Linked DNA regions of Homo sapiens: region 1 is linked to region 2. The links come from fine-mapping of genetic effects on gene expression. A gene starts in region 2. The other region holds a variant in brackets. All regions are shown on one strand. Distances are from middle to middle. Region 1 holds the start of MAG (myelin associated glycoprotein). Region 2 holds the start of LSR (lipolysis stimulated lipoprotein receptor).

The links. PIP is the estimated chance that this variant, and not a neighbour inherited with it, causes the effect.
Region 1: its variant is the best candidate, but not a certain one, in a credible set for the expression of LSR in subcutaneous fat (FUSION, PIP 0.64).

What each region holds. Positions count from the first base shown.
Region 1 is chr19:35,287,197-35,292,677 of GRCh38, reverse strand. It overlaps MAG (myelin associated glycoprotein), which reads right to left and starts at 517. Exons shown (of 11, transcript NM_002361.4): 1 at 474-517. The variant T/C (reference allele first, on the strand shown) is at 2,831.
Region 2 is chr19:35,245,992-35,251,237 of GRCh38, reverse strand. It overlaps LSR (lipolysis stimulated lipoprotein receptor), which reads right to left and starts at 2,236. Exons shown (of 10, transcript NM_205834.4): 1 at 2,107-2,236; 2 at 579-923. The coding sequence starts at 2,215. RefSeq lists silencers at 2,073-2,142, 2,553-2,632 and enhancers at 1,745-2,546, 2,547-3,349, 3,483-3,652.

The DNA of each region.
Region 1 (5,481 bases), 41 kb before region 2:
TGCACGCACACGCACACACACACACACACACACCTGCTATGTGCCCAGGTGCTAGAATGCAGTCACTAACAGCCCACTGCCCCCATCCACCTCCCAGATTGCAGCCTGCAGGTGTCTGATCACCTGGACATCCTTCCATTCTTCGGCCAGATGCAGACCTCCTCCACCCCATCTGCCCCGCACTCGGGAACCCCAAGGAAACCTCTCCTGCAAAATCTTCACCCACAAGGGGTGCTGAGGGGGGGCCCTTTGTTTTTTCTCTCTGTGGTTTCTTCCCAGAGCCCCATCGCTGCCCCAGCGATGGTCCGAGCCCATCCCCAAAGCAGCCCCAAGCCACACACTCCTGCATCCTAAATCAGTAGCGGTGCACAGCGATGCTCCCTCACCCAGAGCACCTGACCCTGCTCACGTCTGGGTGCCACTGCCCCGGTGCCCTGCTCCCCTTGCCCTGGCCTCCCTGCCACCATACTCACTTGGACTCAGTTGCTTCTGCACCTCTGCTCCGCCAGCCCAGCTCGCAGTCCCCTGCCTTCCAGGGTCTAGGCCCCCACTTGCCAGCCCCTCCCCTCCCCCTGGGTGCCAGGGGCCGCCTGCCTCCAGGGCCCAGCTCCTCCCTACCCCCGGGGGAGGGGGGCACAAAGGGGCCCTTGTCACCACGGGGCTCGGACTGGGCAGCCTGACGCCTGGGTTCTCCTAGCTCTTTCCTGGAGGGGTCGGGAGTGGCTGCCTTGCTCTCTCCCCATCTTCCATCCCTGTACACCCTGATTCTGGGTCCCGGGGGTGGGGGGGCAGTCTAATCTCTTTGGAAGTCCCAGGCTGAGGGACAGAGGCATTGTCCTCAGGGAATCTTGGTGGCAACATTAGGTGGGCAGCAGGAGGAGACAGGTCCTTTCCACCCTCAACGTCAGTGTCACCTCCTCTTGCCATCTGAAATGACCTTCCGTGTTCACCAACTCCTTTCATGAGAACGTGACCTCCACCAGGCCAGAAGCTTCGTCTTGGATATTCTCAATCCATCCTTGCTCGTAGACAAGCTCCTGGCAGGCAGTTGAGCTTAATAAACAGTGTGGGTGGTTGAATGTGTTCCCCAGAGCCCCAGGGCACCTTCAGACTCAAGGCCTGTGCACCTGCTGCTCATTCTTCCTGGAAAGCAGTCCCCACCCCATAGCACTCCCCACTCTGGCACTGGCTGCCGTTCACCCATCCTGTAGGCTCAGCAGCCTGGGTGCCGCTTCCCTGGGAAGCTTTCCCATCTTCGCCCATCAGCCAGGCCCCTCCATTGCAATGCTGTCCTTTCCTTCTGTAGCCTTGGCAGGCTGGCCCGTGTGCACCCTAGGTCTGCCCGCCTCTGCCTCCCACTAACCCAGGAGCTCTCAGAGGCAGGGGCTCACCAGAAACCTATCTGCCTCTCTGTCTGTCATGTGCACCCTTCTGTCCCCGGGGCAGTGCTTGGTGCACATAGGACTGTGCTGACCAAGTTGGGCAAGGACCCTCTGAGTGCAGATTCCACCCCTTGGTCATGACTTTTGCAAGGTGGGTGGGGGCTCGGGGCAGCTGGAGGTGGCGTGACAAAGTGCAGCAGTGATTTCACCATGAGCTGTTCAGCCTCACTGGGACATCTCCTGTCCTCCTTCAGGCCAGAGCAGTGGGGAGGGGGGGTCCTCGCTCTCAAGGGAGAACCCAGGGGGTGAGGGGCGGGGAAATCCCTCAGACCAGGGAGAGAAGCGTTGTGGGGCTGGGGGGGAGTTGGAGGGGGAGGGGGAGTCCCACCCCCACCCCAGGCTTCATGATGTCAGACTCTGCCCGTGCCTTTCCCAGTCCGGGACAAAGGACCATTGAGAGTCGGGCGGGGCTTGAATGCCTGGGTCCTGGAGAAGAGAGGGGCCTGGTGCCTGGGCTTTGGTGGTGGTGGTCGGGGTGACAAGGAGATCCTGGGGGGTATTTGCATGTCACAGCCTTCAGCATCAACACCCACCTAGTTGGAGCTGGAGTCGTGTGCTGGTGCAGTGTGGGGCTCCATCTCCTCCCTGGGTGTGAACTGAAGGCTGTTGCTGGGGAGAGGACAGTGTCCCACAGGAGCACTCGCAATAGTCGCTGACATCAGCAACTCGGGTCTCCAGGAGACCTGTGGGAGCGAGGCGGCTGGAGCCCATGAGAGGAAGGGGCTGGGTGACAGGACCTGTGACTGGCGGGCAGGTGCCCTGTCTAAGGGGACAACTGACCCGCAGATCCAGTGGCCGGTGCTGCCGTATCAGCTGATCTTTTACGAGAGAGCAGGTGTATCAGTTTTCCAGGGCTGTTACAACAAAGTTTCACAAACTGGGTGGCTTAAAAACCGGAATTGAGGCCATGCACGGTGGCTCACACCTGTACTCCCAGTGCTTTGGGAGGCCAAGGCGGGCAGATCACGAGGTCAGGAGATCGAGACCATCATGGCTAACACGGTGAAACCCTGTCTCTACTAAAAATACAAAAAATTAGCCGGGCATGGTGGCAGGCGCCTGTAGTCCCAGCTACTCAGGAGGCTGAGGCAGGAGAATGGCGTGAACCCGGGAGGCGGGGCTGGCAGTGAGCGGAGATTGCGCCACTGCACTCCAGGCTGGGCAACAGAGCAAGACTCCGACTCAAACAAACAAACAAACAAACAAACAAAAAACCCTGCCAGAATTGAGCTTGAATTCCAAGATCAACAAGATCAAGTGCTGGCAGTGTTGGTTCCTTCTGAGGGGTGTGAGGATCTGTTCCGGGCCTTTCTCTGTATGGCATCTTCATCTTCACATTCCCTTCCCCCTGTATTCACCCCTGCCCAGATTTGCCGTTTATTTATTTA[T/C]TTATTTATTTATTTATTTATTTATTTATGTTTGAGACATAGTATTGCTTTGTCATTTAGGCTGGAATGCAGTGGTGCAATCATACCTTACTGCCACCTCCACCCTCCAGATTCAAGCGACTCTCTTGCTTCAGCCTCTCAATAGTAACTGGGACTACTGGCACTTTTTTTTTTTTTTTTTTTTTTGCTAGAGACAGGGTCTCACTATATTGCCCAGGCTGGTCTTGAATTCCTGATCTCAAGCAGTCCTCCTGTGTTGGCCTCCCAAACTGCTGGGATTACAGGTGTGAGTCACTGTACCCTGTCAGATTTAGGAAACCAGTTATATTGGATTAGGATTCTCCCGTCTCATTTTAACTTGATTACCTCTGTGAAGACCCTGCCTCCAACTAAGGTCACATTCTGAGCTACTAGGCGTTAGGACTTCAATGTGAGTTTTGAATTCCTAGCAGCAGGAATTCAGAATGAAGCTCTCGGCCATGGGGAGCTCTCACTTAAAGCTTAAAGCTCTCATAGATGGGAGCTGAGGCTCAATCCATCCAAGAGCCTTTGCTGCCCTCAGACAATGGTGTCAGCTTCACAACCAGTCCTCCACAGGACTGCAGCTTGCTCAAAATGCAAGGTCAAGGGCCCCGCCTTGCACCTGTGGAATCAGAAATTCTGGAGGCCCAGCTATCTGCAGTTTATTTGTTTATTTGTTTTACAGACATCGTCTCACTGTGTCACCCAGGCTGCAGTGCAGTGGTGCCATCATAGGTCACTGCAGCCTTGAATTCCTGGCCTCAAGTAATCCTCCCGTCTCAGCCTCGTAAACCACTGGGATTATAGGCATGCTCCACCACGCCCAGCCTCATCTGCATTTTATTTTTATTTATTTAATTTTTTTTGAGACAGAGTCTCATTCTGTCACCCAGGCTAGAGTGCAGTGGCAAGGTCTCAGCTCACCTCAGCTTCTGCCTCCCAGGTTCAAGCAATTCTCGTGCCTCAACCTCCCGAGTAGCTGGGACTACACGTGTGCACCACCACACCCAGCTAATTTTTGTATTTTTAGTAGAGACGGGCTTTCACCATGTTGGCCAGGCTGGTCTCGAACTCCTGGCTTCAAGTGATCCTCCAGCCTCAGCTTCCTAAAGTGCTGGGATTACAGGCTTGAGCCACTGAGCCTGGACCCATCTGCATTTTTGCAGGCCCTCCAGGAGATTTTGAGCACGCTGAAATTTGAGTATCTCTGCTTTACATGTTCTCCCATCTCTCTAGGACCACCCCAGAGAACTGCTTGCTCAGGAGAGAAGAGCACCCCGTGTCATTAAGTGTAATTCCTGATTTCAGGTTTCCCACCTGCCAGGAGGGAGGCCTCTACCCTCTCCTGTCAATATGAATCCTTTACATTGAGGAAGCATTGGACAGTTTCCAAAGCAATTTCACACTCATTCCCTTGGTTGAGCAGCTCTAGAGCCAGTTAAGCTAAGTCCTGTATGGACTTAGCTTCTGTTCCTTTTTTGTTTTTTTTTTTTTTTTTTGAGATGGAGTCTTGTTCTGTCACCCAGGCTGGAGTGCAGTGGCATGATCTTGGTTCACTGCAACCTCTGCTTCCTGGGTTCAAGCGATTCTCCTGCCTCAGCCTCCAGAGTAGCTGAGATTATAGGTGTGCGCCAACACGCCTGGCTAATTTTTGTATTTTCAGTAGAGACGGGGTTTCACCATGTTGGTCAGGCTGGTCTCAAACTCCTGACCTCAGGTGATCCACCCGCCTTGGCCTCCCAAAGTGCTGGGATTACAGCGTGAGCCACCACGCCCAGTGCCTCTGTTCTTTTAAAGGTAAGGAGAGGCCAGGCATGGTGGCTCACAACTGTAGTCCCAGCATTTTGGGAGGCTGAAGTGGGAGGATCATTTGAAGCCATGAGTTTGAGACCCGCCTGGGCAACACAGCCAGATCCACGTCTCTACACAAAATACAAAACTTTAGCGGGGCGTGGTGATAGGCACCTGCGGTCCCAGCTACTCAGGAGGCAGAGGTGGGAGGATCGCTTGAGCCCGGGAGATCAAGACTGCAGTGAGCCATGATCACACCACTGCACTTCAGCCTGGGCTATGGAGCAAGACCCAGACTAAAAAAATAAAATAAAAAATACAGATGAGGAGGTGGAGCTCCGGATATGAAGAAGATGCATGCAAGATGTTACAGCTAATAAGAGGCCAAGCTCACCACAACTCCCCTCTCCCTATCCCTTCAGTTTTCATTCAGGAAACCTCCCCTCCCAGAGGACAAGCCTCTGTGGATTCCAAAGCGAAGGCAGACATTGATGGTGCCCCAGACTGATCTGGCGCCCAGCTGGGCTTCGTTTGGCTCACAGAATGTTGATGTTAAAAGACAAATTGCTTTGCTCAGTTGCCAATACTGTCAAAGCAAGAAATCTCTAATAAAAATAGGAATTCCCACCTTCTCTTGACAAAATCAGAAGTTCTAGTCAGGTTTACCTGCCTTGGGTGTGGCAGCCGTGTCTTGGAGCCCTCTCCCGCCCAGCCTGGGCCTTCCCACTCCCTGCCCACACCCAACATTGAGGCCGAATGACCAATGCCCTTTACCATCAAGTGAGAGCTGTTGCTTCCTGGGAGCTAAGAAGACAGTGAAATAACAGCCCCTATGTCTG
Region 2 (5,246 bases):
AGGGAAGTGGTTTGATGATTTTGTTAACAGCTGTATTCCCAGGGCCCAGAACAGCACCTGGTATATGACAGGTACTCAAAAAATCTTCGTTATTAAATTAAAGAATGGAAGGATTAGCAGAAGGAAGAATAGTAGAATAGAATCGCTCCCTTTAGGCTGGGTATGGTGTCTCTCAGCACTTTGCGAGGCCAAGGCGGGCAGATCATTTGAGGTCAGGAGTTTGAGACCAGCCTGGCCAACATGGTGAAACCCCATCTCTACTAAAAATACAAAAATTAACTGGGCGTGGTGGCACGCACCTGGAGTCCCAGCTACTCGGGAGGCTGAGGCAAGAGAATTGCTTGAACCTGGGAGGTGGAGGTTGCAGTGAGCTGAGATCGCACCACTGCACTCCAGCCTGGAGTCCAGAGCAAGACTCCATCTTCAAAAAAAAAAAAAAAAAGAATTGCTCCCTTCAATGGTCCTTTCAGACACTGGCACTCAAGAGCTTTCAGATGGGGACTCCAGGTCCCGCACAAGGACGCCAGTCCCACCACCCGGGCAAGCCCAGCCTCATCCCCCTGCCCTGCCCAACATACTTCCGGTGATGGTAATCCTCCGGCCCTGGTAGTAATCTCCCAGGGTCACAGCGTTGCCCTGCTTGGTGGCCACGACCCTGACGGTGCGCACGCTGTCCTGGCACTCAACGTAGGGGTTGTAGCCTGGGTTCCCGGCTGCCAGCTGGGCATTGAGCTGGTTGTCGACGCTGGCCGGGGAGAAGGCATCGGCGATGCGGTCCCGGCAGAAAGACTTGTACTTCCAGATGACGATGGGTTGCGTGGGGGTCGAGGTCATCTGGTAGGTACAGGGCAGGGTCACAGGCTGGAAGAGGATCACCACGTGGTAGGGGTTGGACACGGTCACCTGGATGGCCCTGGCAGGAGCTGAGGGCAAGAGGAGAGACAGCAAGGGTTGCTGTGAGCTCAGGGAGGTGCTTCAACAGGAACGCCACCTGTCACCAGCTTGACACTCGCAAGTATGTGGTTTACAGAGTGCCTGGCACACATTGTTCCTTAATTGCCAGGACCAGTGAGGTAGCCACGATAATCATGCCCATTTTATAGACCCGTGGGGCTGAAGTGGCAGGTGCACGGTGACACGGCCAGTTTCCTTGGACTCGCCCGCCATCCCTCTTCCCAGCCTGTGGCCTCTGAACCACACCAGTCCCCTCTTCCCTTTGCCATTCACCCACAACAAGGGGCCTCTGTGTGGCCTGGGCAGGCAAGCCCAGATGGCCATGTTGATGCCCCCAGCGCCCAAGGCCCCACTTCAAAACCGACTACGAAGGATTCCAGGTTACCCGGGGCCTTTTGAATTTGGAGGGAAAACCATGGAGTTGTTTGCCTGAACTGCTTTGCCATGGAGGGACTAAAGCCCCCACAATATCTCCATCAGCCTCCCACCACCTCACCCTACTCTAAAGTCATTTCAAATGACTGAACCAAAAGTGTCTCGGGAAAGACCTCATCACCACCCAAATATCCCATCCAGGTGAAAGCCTGCCAGCAGAAGTCGGTTTCAAGTCCGTAAATCCATCCCACCAGACTCTTACGCACGTATAATCCGGAGCCCGCGGGAGGTGGGTGGGGTGCGGGGGATGGGGAGTCCCCAGTCCCACACCCACCCGAGGCCTAGGCATTGTTCCTTCGTCTCTGTCCCTCTAGGAAGCGTCTGATCCAGCCCTCCCGTGCCCTCTCCCCGTTACTCCAAAACTTAGAAATCCCCGGGTGCGCCCAAGTCCCATCCCGGCTTTTCTTTTCCCAGAGATCGGGCGGTCTTCCACTCCCTCCCCACAAAGAGTTCCATTCTCCCTGCCGCTCCGGGTCTCACCGTCCAGGGAGTTTCACTTCCTGCTATCTTCCAGATAAGGGCGCGGGGAGCGCTCCCCGGCACAAATGGGGAATTCCTCTCACTCCCGCGCGCAACAGATCGCCCAAGACCCAGGGGATCGGAAGGTCCCAGCCTCTGAGACCCCCGCTTCCCGCTTCCCGCCGCCTCCAACTCCATCCATCCCCCTCTACAGTTCCCTCCGGCGTTCCGCAGCGTCAGAGGCCCCGTGCCCCGTACCTGTGCACCAGGTGCTAAGCAGAAGCCACACGAAGACGACCGCGTCCCGGCCTGCGGCGGCCGGGTGGGAGCCCAGCCCTCTGGAGAGCCCGCCGGCCAACAGCGCCATCGCGGCCGTCTGGGCGCGTCTGGCCCGCGCGTCCCTTCCAAAGTACCTTAGGGGGCGCGGCGCGCACCAAGGCCAGGAGGGGTGCACGCTCCTCCCCTTCCCACTTCCGTTCCTTGTCCCTACTCCAAGTCCGTCCTGTTGCATTCTGGAAGTTTTAATGAGCGTAAACGACGTGGACAAAGGGCATGCTTTCAGATATGGGGGAGAAAGGTGCTTGACCCGCCGCGGTCCTCCGAGCCACACTCCACCCGCTGCGCGCTCCGGTGAATGGTTCGGCCCAGGTACACAAGGGTGGGAGCCGAGGGCTGGGCTTAGGGGTGAGCGGCGGGGAGGGGTTCCTCTGCCTCCCTCCCCGGAAGTGGGCTGACCCAGGTGCGCTCCGTCCCCCAGGGCCCGAACCAAGTGACTGGCCCGCTGGGAGGGCGCCTGCGGACCACAGGTCCCTTCCGGCCCCCATCTGCTCCGGCCAAACCAAGCGCACCGAGATCCATGCAACCGAGACCCACTTGGAGCGATTCACCTGTTGAGATAGGGCGGGTCCCGCCGCGCACCTGTTCCCTCCCTGCCCAAACCCCTCTCCCCGGCTGGCGATGGACCCGCCTAGGTGCGCCCTGCCGGGAGGAGCGAGTCTAAGCAAAGTCCTGGCTGGGAGAGGCTTGTTGGTGGCGCCTGACTTCTCCACTTCCACTGGGGTTCCTCCGGACCGGGTGGAGGGGGGGCGCTTCGGGCCTCCTGTGTCTCCCAGTTAGATGACCTGAGGAACCCTCTAAAGTCCCCGGAAGGGAAGCTCTGCCCCCTCAGGGATGCCCAAGGGGAATCAGGGCCAGGAAAAGTTGGAATTCCACTTCGGAAGTTTTCGCCACCTCCCCCACCCGTTCCCAACTTGTGGTTCGGCCCCTGGGCATCCCTAGCCCCCGGGTCAGCCCTCCGGAAATTCTGGCTCTTAAAGGGGCCGAGCGAAGGCGCGGGGCTTGGGACCGGTTTCCGCTTAGGAATTCCCGGAACGAGCCACCTGCGACCGAGGGCGGGGGCGCGGCGCGGCGATCAGCCTGCGCAGCGCTGGGCGTGACTCTGCTGTCTCCAGGTGGCGGCGAGGGAAAGCGCATCCTGGGGGAACCCTGGGCGCTTCCTCGCGTTAGACTCCCCCAGGTTGCCAACTGGCCAGTGGCTGGTTTCGGTACCCAGGCGTGCTTTGTTCTACTGGCCCTGTTAAAACTCAAGCCAGATCACGTCCACCTGCTCACAGCCCTCCTGTGGCTCCTCCTCACTCTCAGCAGAAACTGACCTTCCCCCTCTTATCTCACCTCCTCCCACTCTCTCTGGCTTACTCAGCTTCGGACACCCTGGCCTCCTCGCTGTTTCCAACTATACTTCTCACAGTCCTCAGAGCCATCGCCCGTGCTACTCCCTCTGCCAGAACACCCTTCCCGCAGATGTCCACATGATCTTCCTCCTCCTGTAGGACACCATTGCAGTGACACCTTCCCTGGCCACTTTTTATAAAATTTCAACCCGTTCACGTCCCTTCATCGTTTAAAAAAATATTTTTATGATAAAATATGCAAACTATAATATTTATCGCTTTAACCACTTCAAGTGTAAAATTCAGTGGCATTAAGTATATTCACAATGTCGTGTACCAATCACCACTCTTTATCCCCGAAACTGTTTCATCATCCCCAACATAAACTCTGTGACCATTAAACAGTAACTCCCCATTCCCTGCTACCTGTGCCCCTAGTAATTTCTATTCTACTTTGCTTACCAAATTGCCCATTCTAGGTGCCTCATATAAGTGGAATCGTCTAACATTTGTCCTGTGTCTAGTTTATTTCACAAAGAATAATGTTTTCAAGGTCCATCCATGTTGTAGTATGTCGAAGCCATGTAGCATGCAGTAAGATCAAAATTTCTTTTTACAGCGGACTAGTGTACCATTGTATGTATATGCTACGTTTTATTTATCCATTCATTTGTGGATGGACCTAGGTTGTTTCTACCTTTTGACTATTGTAAATAGTGCAGCTGTGAACACTGGTGTACAAATATCTGCTTTCATTTCTTTTGAATATATGCCTAAGAATGGAATTGCTGGGTGACTTGGTAGTTCTATTTTTAACCTTTTGAGGAACTGCCAAACTGTTTTCCCCAATGACTGCACTATTGTACATTCCCACCAGCAATGCACGGAGGATTCCAATTTCTCCACATCCCCACCAAAACTTATTATCCATTTTCTTGATTATGGCCATCCTGGTTAGTGTGAAGTGGCATCTCATTGTGGTTGTAATCTGCATTTCCCCAATGACTAACGATGTTGAGCATATTTCCACGAATTTATTGTCCATTAGTATATCTTCTTTGGAGAAGTGTCTATTCAAGTACTTTGCCCATTTTTGAATTGGGTTGTTTGTTTTTTTGTTGTCAAGTTGTAGGAGTTCTATATATATTTTGAATATTAATCCCTTGTTAGATATATGATCTGCAAATATTTTCTTCCATTCTCCAGGTTTTTTCACTTTCTTGATAGTGTCCTTTGGTGCACAAAAGTTCTTAATTTGATGAAGTTCAATTTACCTACTATTTTTTCTTCCTTGTACTTTTGGTATCCTATTTATGCAGTTGTTGCCAAGTCCAATGTGATGAAGATTTTCAACAATATTTTCTTCTAAGAGTTTTATAGTTTTAACTCTTAAATTGAGTCTTTGAGCCACTTTATTTTATTTCATTTTATTTTTTGAGACTGAGTCTCACTTTGTCGCCCAGGTTGGAGTGCAGTGGTGTGATCTCCGCTTACTGCAACCTCCACCTGCCGGGTTCAACCGATTCTCATGCCTCAGCCTCCCGAGTATTTGGGATTACAGGTGCATGCCACCACACTGGGTTAATTTTTGTATTTTTAGAAGAGATGGGGTTTCACCATGTTGGCCAGGCTGGTCTCGAACTCCTGACCTCAAGTAATCTACCTGCCTTGGCTTCCCAAAGTGCTCACATAGGTGTGAGCCACTGCACCCGGCCTGGGCCATTTTAA